Homo sapiens: one gene and its partners. The protein of the gene in region 1 purifies or fractionates together with the protein of each later gene. This does not show direct contact. Each region holds a gene or a part of one and is shown on either strand. Other genes may lie near its edges.

Region 1 (3,650 bases):
ACATGAAAGCATTAGAAGATGTGTGGTGTTTATAAAAGAACAGTTGTCATCACCGGGCATTGATTGGCAGGGACAAGGAGCTGCTTGGGTGTGGAAAGTTGGGGCGTTGGAAAGTGGGCTGTGGTGCCCATTTGCAGTGACTGTGAAGTGACTCCAGGACGGACCTGCGGGGGCACCCAGAGGTCCTAAGCCCCAGGACTGAGGGTCGTGCATCACCACTCGGGTGTCCCGGGAGGTGCCCTGGGCCCGGGGACCTCACAGGCAGGACGGCGACACTAATGCAGGGAGAGGGAGTCTGGCCCCAGCTTTTCCTATCAGAGGCGATTTTCCTTCACCAGGGGATGGGCAGGAAAGAGGCAGGGGCCCCAGAAGCTTCTGTCCCTCATGCCTGAGGGCACGGGGGACACTTGGAGGCTGCTGTCACCACTGTGCGTCCAAGGCCATGCTCTCTGCGGGTCAGTGCCTGAGTCTCGCCTCCCTGCTGGTCCCTGAAGCCCCCTCAGAAGCCCTGCCTGTCACGTCGGCATTTGTGAGACCTACCCTGTAACGCCTGCCCCTCTCAGCCCAACATCAGCTTCCTCTTTCTCCCTTGCTGTAGACAGGCTGGATTCCAGTGTTGGGACAGCCATCTCCAGAAACCTGACTTAAGAGAGTAAGATGCAAATCGTGCCTGTATCCAGTGGCTTTGGTGGGTGCAGGGAGTCTTGGGCACAGCCAGCTCAGCTGTCTGTGGTATGAGCAGGAACAGGTGCCACTCCTGCTCAGGGGACCCTGCCCTACACCAGGCTGTTCCGTCCCCCTGGAGGACATGGGGCCAGGTCTGGAGGCATTTTGGGTTGTCACAGCTGGGGGCTGTTCCTCGGCTTCAGCGGGTGGAAGCCTCAGATGCTGTTCAACATCTTCTGGACACGGGAGGCCCCGACAGAGAGAAGCGTCCACCCGCAAGTCCACAGTCTGAGGTCTCCCCTCAGAGACCCTGCCCTGCACACCCACCTCCAGCCAAAGGTCCTGCCTGCCCCAGGGCTCAGGGGAACCTTGCCGGTCTGTGGAACAGGAGAGGGGACTCTCGCCAGCTGCACCACCCTGCACGTAGTAGGTGTGCGGTAAACATCCACCAGGGAGGCTCCAGTCAAGGCTGGCAGATGGGGCGGTCCATCCCTAGGGCAGGTGACAGAAGGGAAAAGGCTGCCTGCTGGCCCCCGAGCCAGGTAGCACATGCTTGTGCCTCAGTTTCCCCTCCTGTAAAGTGAGGCGCTGGATCCAGGTTCTGTCTACTGGGCTCTGCAGCTTGGACGCTCCTAAGACCAAGCGACCCACCCTGGGGAGGGCAGCTATGGCTTTGGAATAGCTGTCCAGGCCCGGGTGCCTCCAAGACGGCCACCACACCCTGCCTGTGCTGCAGGGGTGCAGGGGTAAGGGGCAAGACTCCAGAGGCCTCCTCTCTGCATCTCCTTGTCTTCAGTGGCCGGAGGTGAGGCCTGAGCTCAGGGGAGGGGCTTCTGCCACGAACCCTATGGCGGGGCACAGCACACTTTTCCCAGGGAGGACCCCTGGGCCCCCTGCATTATCCCCAGCGGAGTGTGGGGTCACCTTCCAAGAGCGACATTGAGAAGCTCCAGCTCTAGGAGTGTGCAGACTCTTAACCAGGCAGGCCCAGGCCCTGGGGCACACAAAGGCGGGGCCTGCTCTCCCCAGCTGCCCCTGCCAATGGGGGCTGGACTGTCCTACCCTCCTCCCTTCTACCTCCCCACTGTCTTCCCTCTCCACTGTCACCACTGCCTCCCTCTTCCACTGTCCTCCATGCACTGCCCTCCCTCCACCTTCCCCCACCCCCACCACTCCCCATGCTGTCCCCAGGCTCCCCCCGCTCTCCCCCCTCCCCACTGTCCCCCTCCCCATGCTGTACCCAGCTCACCCCGCTCTCCCCTCTCCCCACTGTCCCCCCTCCCACTCCCCATGCTGTCCCCAGCTCACCCTACATGGACTTGGCGATGTCCTTCCATGGCTCACCGGTCTGAATTTCCATGATGAGCCGGGCCTGCAGCTTTGCTCCCCTATCCCTGCCCAGGCTGCAGCTGTCCATGCAGGGAGCGAGCTCCAGCACCTGCGGAGTCCTTCCGTGGGGGCCTCTCCGTGCCACAGCAGCCAGGGACCTCAGGTGCCTGTGCATGACACCACCGCCCATCCTCATCCTGAGCCAGCCTCTCAGGATCAGGACTTGGTTTGGCGGCGTTAACCTTAGAGCCTGCAAGGGGCTTCCTCCTGGTGGGTCTGGCCGTAGCCTGGGGAGGCCACAGCTCCAGGCCACTCCAGACCTCCCTTCCTCTGGGCCTTCCATGTGGTGGCAACCACCGCAGCTGTAAGGGAGGGAAAATGGAGCGTTTGTTCTCGGGCTGGGCTGGGGTCTGGGGGAAGCCATGGGCGTGAAGACTGGAGTATTATTTGATGGAGAAGCGGCCACTCCTGGAGACCGGCGGCAAACACAGAAGCACAGCGTGGAAGGTGCTGGTGTCAGCCCACACGGGTGATGGGGTCAGACTCAGGAGTCACACTCAGGAGTCACCAGGCTCAAAGGGCCCAGGCACCGCAAGTCCTGCTCAGCCCCAGACACAATGCATTCCTGTTGCCCTCGCCCTCAGCCAGGCCCCACGCAGGCCAGGGAGCACTGGCAAAGCTTGGCAACCCTCTGGGGGCCAGCCTTCATCCAGGCCGAAGGTGGTCAGTGGCCCACCATGGCCCAGGTAGAAAACTCACGGATTAAGATTTCATGCCCGACTCCAAAGGCAAGAGACTTTATTATTTTATTTTTTTTGAGCCAGAGTATCGCTCTGTCACCTAGGCTGGAGTGCAATCTCTGCTCATTGCAACATCTGCCTCCCGAACTCAAGCAATTCTGCCTCAGCCTCCCAAGTAGCTGGGATTACAGGTGTGCGCCACCATGCCCAGGTAATTGTATTTTTAGTAGAGACAGGGTTTCACCATGTTGGTCAGGCTGGTTTCAAACTCCTGACCTCAAATGATCTGCCCACCTCGACCTCCCAAAGTGCTGGGATTACAGGTGCGAGCCACCGCACCTGGCTACCAGACACTTCAGAGTTACAGGTTAGTTTTTCTTTTTCTTTTATTTTTTTTTTTTTGGCGGAGGTGCAGGGGGAGTTAAACAAACAAACAAAATAAACAGGCCGGGTGCGGTGGCTCATGCCTGTAATCCCAGCACTTTAGGAGGCCTAGGTGGGTGGATCACGAGATCAGGGGTTCAAGACCAGCCTGGCCGAGATGGTAAAACCCCGTCTCCACTAAAAATACAAAAATTGGCCAGGCACGGTGGCTCACACCTGTAATCCCAGTACTTTGGGAGGCTGAGGTGGGCAGATCACCTGAGGTCAGGAGTTCAAGACCAACCTGACCAACATGGAGAAACCCCATCTCTACTAAAAATACAAAATTAGCCAGGTGTGGTGGTGCATGCCTGTAATTCCAGCTACTCGGGAGGCTGAGGCAGGAGAATTGCTTGAACCCAGGAGGCAGAGGTTGCAGTGGGCCAAGATGGCGCCATTGCACTCCAGCCTGGGAACAAGAGCGAAACTCTGACTAAAAAAGAAAGAAAGAAAGAAAAAAATTAGTTGGGCACGGTGGCAGGCGCCTGTAAT
Region 2 (3,650 bases), on another chromosome or scaffold:
TTATAGTCACCGTGGCATGCAATAGATCTCTAAAACTTACTCCTCTAACTGAAACTTGGTATTCTTTGACTAACCTCTCTCCTTTCCTTTTTCCCCCTTCTCCCTAGCCTTTGTAGACCACCATTCTGCTCTCTGCCTCCCTGAGTTTGACTTTTTTTTTTAGATTTTACACATATGTGAGATCATGCAGTATTTGTTTTTTTGTGTCTTATTTATTTCACTTAGCATTATGTCCTCCGGGTTAATCTACGTTTTTGAAAATGACATAATTTTCTTCCTTTTAAAGGCTGTATGGTATTCCATTCTGTATATATATTACATTTTCTTTATCCATTCATCATAGATCCTTTTAGATATCTCTAATATCGACCTTAAATGCAGAAGATGAATCACTGTATTGGAAGAAAGAAAAGTAATCCTATAAAATCAGTTTAAAATTAGGTCAGTATAGCAAGGATTAGATATGTTGATTTTACTTTGGGTACTCTGAGAACTTGATTTAAACTGAACCTTGCCCAGTGCTAATGTAATCAGTAGACCACACTAATTCCTATGGTATAGTAGTGACTTTTTTTTTGAGATAGACTCTTGTTCTGTTACCCCAGCTGGAGTGTAGTGGTGCAATCTCTGCTCACTGCAACCTCTGCCTCCTGGGTTCAAGCGATTCTCATGCCTCAGCCTCTGGAGTAGCTGGGATTACAGGCACGCGCCACCACTCCTGGCTAATTTTTGTCTTTTTAGCAGAGACAAGGTTTTACCATGTTGGCCAGGCTGGTCTTGAACTCCTGACCTGAGGTGATCGACCCGCCTCGGCCACCCAAAGTGCTGGGATTACAGGCATGAGCCACCGTGCCGAGCCAATTTTTGTATTTTTAGTAGGGACAGGGTTTCACCCTGTTGGCCAGACTGGTCTCAAACTCCTGACCTCATGTGATCTGCCCACCTCGGCATCCCAAAGTGTTGGGATTACAGGCATGAGCCACTGCACTGGGCTGGAATACATACTAATTTTTAGAAAGCTATTACAGCATCCCTCTTGAGGAAAATGTATAATGTAATTTATGCTGAAGTCTACTGAAAGCTGTAGGGCCTATACAAATATAATGGCATTAATACAATAAAAACTGTGTTCATATTTATTATAATTTCTGGTACATTGTTAGCTATTCTATAAATGTTAGTAAATGAATAAGTTATGTTGAAATTCCTTTTCACATTTTTTTTTCTTTTGTTTGAGGCTCAGTCTTGCTCTTGTTGCCCAGGCTGGAGTGCAGTGGCGCGATCTCAGCTATCCTCAGTCTCTGCCTCCTGGGTTCAAGCTATTCTTCTGCCTCAGCCTCCTGAGTAGCTGGGATTACAGGTGCCCGCCACCATGCCCGGCTAATTTTTGTGCTTTTATTAGAGACGGGGTTTCCCCATGTTGGCCAGGCTGGTCTTGAACTCCTGACCCAGGTGATCTGCCCACTTCGGCCTCCCAAAGTGCTGGAATTACAGGTGTGAGCCACTGCACCTGGCCTCTTTTCACGTTTCAATCTGTGACTAGTACTTAGCACAGTTTTTACAATATTTATATGAAAATGCTCCTTACATACAAATGGCTAGCTCAGATTTTCACCTCTCTGCCATCGTTGCTCTTGAGACTTTTGTTCCATCTCTCTAGTTGCTGACATTGACAATCTTTTTCTTCTTTCACCCAGTTTATATCCACTTTTCTTTTTAGCTTAACAGAGAGTTGACTGACACACCTTTGGGAATTAGATGTGGTCCTCAGCTGTACCCAGTCAGTCTCCTTTATGGGAGAGACAAAACTTTGTTGGGAACCATGAAAAATTAGTGTGCATATCTCAGGCTGTGGATCCTTTCGCCACCCATTTCCATGGTTTTCCTATTTTTGCTCCCCTCCCCAAATTCTGGTGGCATATTGCTTAGTGTTTGCAGTTTTGGGGCTCAGGTCAGTGTAATGGAGGTAACCTTCTTTATAGTCTGACCTGGAATAGAAACTAAAGCCTCGACATATAATCCTAAAGTTGGAAAGAACACGCTGGTCTTGAGTTCTGTGAGTTGCAGGAGACTGAAATTTGTTTCTGCCAACTGTTTTCAGTTAATCAAGTTGGAACCTTAGTGGATATCTTAGATTCTTCTTTACCATTCCCTATATCTTATTAATTACCAGGTCCTCTTAAATATTTCTTCAAACTCTCTCTGCTTCTCAATATTGATGTGTCTTAGTGAGCAGGGTAAAATCACAGCCAAAGTATTTTTTAATTCTCTCACTCAACACAACAATAATTAACACAGAAGACTTCTGTGACCAGATGCTTGGGGGTTTCTCCCCCCACAGCAACCAACCAGTTAGTTCTGCAGCAGATACCAACTGGGTGCCCCCCGGTTCCAATACGGTGTACCTGGAGGTAGTGTCAGACACCACTGGTTGAGGGCAGTTCCCAAAAGACTTCCCCCACTTCCAGTGCTAATCGCAAGCCCCAGGTTATTTTGATTTTGCCTGTGCTTCTGATAACACTGGCTATAAATCAGGGATCCCATGACCCCCCCACTCCTTACGTCCTTGGGTTCAATTAATGTGCTAGAGCAGCTCACAGAACTCAGAGAAACACTTACCGGTTTATTATAAAGGATGTTCAAAGGATACAGATGAACAGATGCATAGGGGGAGATAGGGGAAAGAGCATGGAGCTTCCATGCCTTCCCATGGTGCGCCACCTTCCAGGAGCCTCCAATGTTCAGCTATCCAGAAGCTCTCTGAATCCACTCCTTTTGGGTTTTTATGGAGGCTTCATTACATAGGCACAGTCAACAACTGTGTAGAAATGTGATTGGACAAAAAGAGTATGACCTAACAGCACTAATAGACCCAGTGGGGAAACCCAGCAAGGCCTGCCTGTCCAACTTCTTCTGCCTGTCTGCAGCATTCCTTCTTCCAGGGTCTGGGGCAAGCTCCCTTCTAAAGGGAAGGTCTTATGACCCACAGTCAGACAGGCTGTGGAAGATTAGAGTTCTGCCTTGGGTTGGTGGAAAGGAGGGCAGGAAAAGGTCAGCAAGAGAAGAGATTCTGTTTTCTGAGGTTTAATGTGCCCCAACATTATACAAAAGACTGTAGTAAGGCCAGGCACAGTGGCTTACCTCTGTAATCCCATCACTTTGGAAGGCCGATGTGGGCGGATCACTTGAGGCCAGGAGTTCGAGACCAGCCTGGCCAACATAGTGAAATCCTGTCTCTACTTATATAAAATTAAATTTAATATTAAAAAAGAATGTAATAAGAGCTGTGGGACTTATAAACCAGGAACCATGGATGAAAACCAATATATATCATATCACTCTTAATTCAGTTATGCCCTATCTTACGTTTAGAATTGTTCAGACGTCTAGTCTCATCTCCAGCTTCTCTATCTGTAGTCCTTCAGTCTCTTACCCTTCTTATCTGGCTTTCACACTGCTGCTAGTGTTGGCTTACTAAAATTCATGTCTGATCATGTGATTTCTCTAAAGTTCTTCATGGTTTCCCCTGTGTATAGATGAGTATGTAAGTTTCTTAGTGTGACACATGAACCCCTCCCCTTCATGATCTGGCCTATGTCTGCCTCTGTAGCTACTCTCTGGTCCTTTACCTCTTACATAAGCTACCCAAG
Region 3 (3,000 bases), on another chromosome or scaffold:
GTGTCTGCGGGGCCTTCCGGCCGCCGCCCCTTTTACCTTGGCTTCCAAGGTGCCTGAGTCATGATGTCAAAAAGAACGAAATCCTGGCCATGGCGCCCACGTGGAGGCCCTGGGTGGACCGTGGCTGCCTGGCCAGGCCTGTCTTGGCAACAGGGCAGTAAGGCCTTGTGTGGCACCTGGGGTGGGCAGGGCTTCCCCAGGGCAGCTCCCTCCCCGTGCCCGGTGTGTAGCAGGTCCTCGGGCGGTGTGTGGGGGCCGGGTTGGAGGGCCTGGTCCAGGCAGCTCCGCTGTTCCATGCCAAGTGCCCTCGCGTGGCCTCCCCTCCCAGGGTACCAGGGCCGAGGCAGCGCTGGGCTCCCACGTTGGCTGCCCGTGCAGCTGCAGGCTGAGGGCAGGGCCTGGGATCTGGGGCTGAAGAGACCCTCTGATTCCAGGACCACCTGGTGTGCTTCCTGCCAGGGACGCTGGCTCTGGGCGTCTACCACGGCCTGCCCGCCAGCCACATGGAGCTGGCCCAGGAGCTCATGGAGACTTGTTACCAGATGAACCGGCAGATGGAGACGGGGCTGAGTCCCGAGATCGTGCACTTCAACCTTTACCCCCAGCCGGGCCGTCGGGACGTGGAGGTCAAGGTGGGCCTGGGCCTGGGTCAGGGTCCATCAGGAGGAGGGTGCTGGCAGGGCTGGCCTTGCCCTGAGCTCTGCTCCGCCCACAGCCAGCAGACAGGCACAACCTGCTGCGGCCAGAGACCGTGGAGAGCCTGTTCTACCTGTACCGCGTCACAGGGGACCGCAAATACCAGGACTGGGGCTGGGAGATTCTGCAGAGCTTCAGCCGATTCACACGGGTGAGCACCTGTCCTCGCCCCGCGTGGTCACGGCCACCGGGCCACAGGCACGGCTGGGCTGTGGGGCTCAGGCTGGCTCCGCTCTTGGTGGTGGCTGTGACCTGGATCCGGGAGGGGCGGGCTTGCCGCAGCCTCGGGGTGGCCACACTGCAGCTTGGGGGCCCTGGCATCCCCATCCCCACTGAGCTTCATGGTTGTGGGACCCAGAGTACTTGGAGGGGCTGGGCACCCCTCATTTTCATTTCTCAGGGCCTGTCTAGGGAGGGTCTCTGCTGTGGGCCCAGCATCCCCCCAGTTTAGGAGGCACACGCACCCATGACTGGGGCACCATCCCCACTGTGGACCAGGCCCTGTTTTAGGTCACGCCCTCCACGCCAGAGTGTCACTTCCTGGCTCTGCTGTGATCTTGGCCTGAGGCCCCCGCTGCCTCCGCTCCCACCGTCTGCCCTGTGCCCTGTGCCCTGTGCGGCAACTGTGAGGCCCCCTGAGCCCAGGTTCTGGGGGAGGCGGTTTCTGTCGTGGTCACTTGAGGGTTGTTGGCATTTCCAGGTGGGCTCCGGTGGAACCACACGGCTCGCCTGGGGGTGGCCATCATCCAGGCGCCCTCCACCCTGAGCTTGCGCTGGGGGCCACATTCACCATGGGGTGGAGAGCGCTTCGGTGATGAGGCTGAGGGGGGTGCAGGGTGCCCCCCGTGTGGTGACGAGGCCCTGGCTGCTGCACAGGTCCCCTCGGGTGGCTATTCTTCCATCAACAATGTCCAGGATCCTCAGAAGCCCGAGCCTAGGGACAAGATGGAGAGCTTCTTCCTGGGGGAGACGCTCAAGTATCTGTTCTTGCTCTTCTCCGATGACCCAAACCTGCTCAGCCTGGATGCCTACGTGTTCAACACCGAAGCCCACCCTCTGCCTATCTGGACCCCTGCCTAGGGTGGATGGCTGCTGGTGTGGGGACTTCGGGTGGGCAGAGGCACCTTGCTGGGTCTGTGGCATTTTCCAAGGGCCCACGTAGCACCGGCAACCGCCAAGTGGCCCAGGCTCTGAACTGGCTCTGGGCTCCTCCTCGTCTCTGCTTTAATCAGGACACCGTGAGGACAAGTGAGGCCGTCAGTCTTGGTGTGATGCGGGGTGGGCTGGGCCGCTGGAGCCTCCGCCTGCTTCCTCCAGAAGACACGAATCATGACTCACGATTGCTGAAGCCTGAGCAGGTCTCTGTGGGCCGACCAGAGGGGGGCTTCGAGGTGGTCCCTGGTACTGGGGTGACCGAGTGGACAGCCCAGGGTGCAGCTCTGCCCGGGCTCGTGAAGCCTCAGATGTCCCCAATCCAAGGGTCTGGAGGGGCTGCCGTGACTCCAGAGGCCTGAGGCTCCAGGGCTGGCTCTGGTGTTTACAAGCTGGACTCAGGGATCCTCCTGGCCGCCCCGCAGGGGGCTTGGAGGGCTGGACGGCAAGTCCGTCTAGCTCACGGGCCCCTCCAGTGGAATGGGTCTTTTCGGTGGAGATAAAAGTTGATTTGCTCTAACCGCGATGTCGCCTGTGTCTTTAGGGATCTCCATGACTGGAAAGTCTGGGCGGACGTTGGGGAGAAGGTATTCTTCAAGTCACGTCTCAGAATTCGGTTTGCTGAGACTGGACTCTAGCTGTCCCCTGCTGGTGGGCAGGGAGAGGCCACGGGGAAGCTCCGTGTCCCTGGCCCCACGGGGCAGATGCTTGGCGGGAGGCATCCTTGCGCCTGCGTTTCACACAGGGCCTGTTTCCCTGCAGGGCTGGCACTGAGGCGCACAGCTGAGGGATACACGGGCCCTCAGGTCAGGCAGCTCCCAGCAGCCTGGCATGGCTATGGCCCCGAGCCCTGGGCTGTGGTGGCAGAGTTGTCCTCATCATCACTCTACTGCTGTCCCTATCCCAGGGCTGACCCTGGGCCTTGGCTGGGTTCCCCCCGACCCTGAACCAGGTGACCTCTTAGGACCACGCCCCCTCGCTCTCCCCTGTGAAAAATCCATCACCTTCACTTCCGGAAGACTCCCCTTCCCTGGGAAGCCAGAGCCGGTGGCGGCACAGGGCAGGGCTACCCGGACCCAGCCCAGGATTGCCAGCTCCGCCCCTCGGGACGTCCGGGCCCCGAGTGTGGGCCTCGGCTCTGCCTGTCCCCAC

What was found.
Region 2: the proteins of ICOSLG (region 1) and CLCN3 purify together in Homo sapiens (affinity purification with mass spectrometry; one large-scale study listed by BioGRID and IntAct). This does not show direct contact.
Region 3: the proteins of ICOSLG (region 1) and MAN1B1 purify together in Homo sapiens (affinity purification with mass spectrometry; one large-scale study listed by BioGRID and IntAct). This does not show direct contact.

The regions. Positions count from the first base shown.
Region 1 is NC_000021.9:44,223,852-44,227,501, reverse strand, and holds part of ICOSLG (ICOS ligand isoform a precursor), read left to right. Parts: 3' UTR 1-3,650. UniProt on the Homo sapiens protein: Ligand for the T-cell-specific cell surface receptor ICOS. Acts as a costimulatory signal for T-cell proliferation and cytokine secretion. Also induces B-cell proliferation and differentiation into plasma cells.
Region 2 is NC_000004.12:169,623,575-169,627,224, forward strand, and holds part of CLCN3 (H(+)/Cl(-) exchange transporter 3), read left to right. Parts: intron 1-3,650.
Region 3 is NC_000009.12:137,106,816-137,109,815, forward strand, and holds the end of MAN1B1 (endoplasmic reticulum mannosyl-oligosaccharide 1,2-alpha-mannosidase), read left to right. Parts: intron 1-434; coding exon 435-632; intron 633-715; coding exon 716-847; coding exon of another isoform or gene 848-1,147; exon of another isoform or gene 1,148-1,563; intron 1,564-1,572; coding exon 1,573-1,776; 3' UTR 1,777-2,368; downstream 2,369-3,000. UniProt on the Homo sapiens protein: Involved in glycoprotein quality control targeting of misfolded glycoproteins for degradation.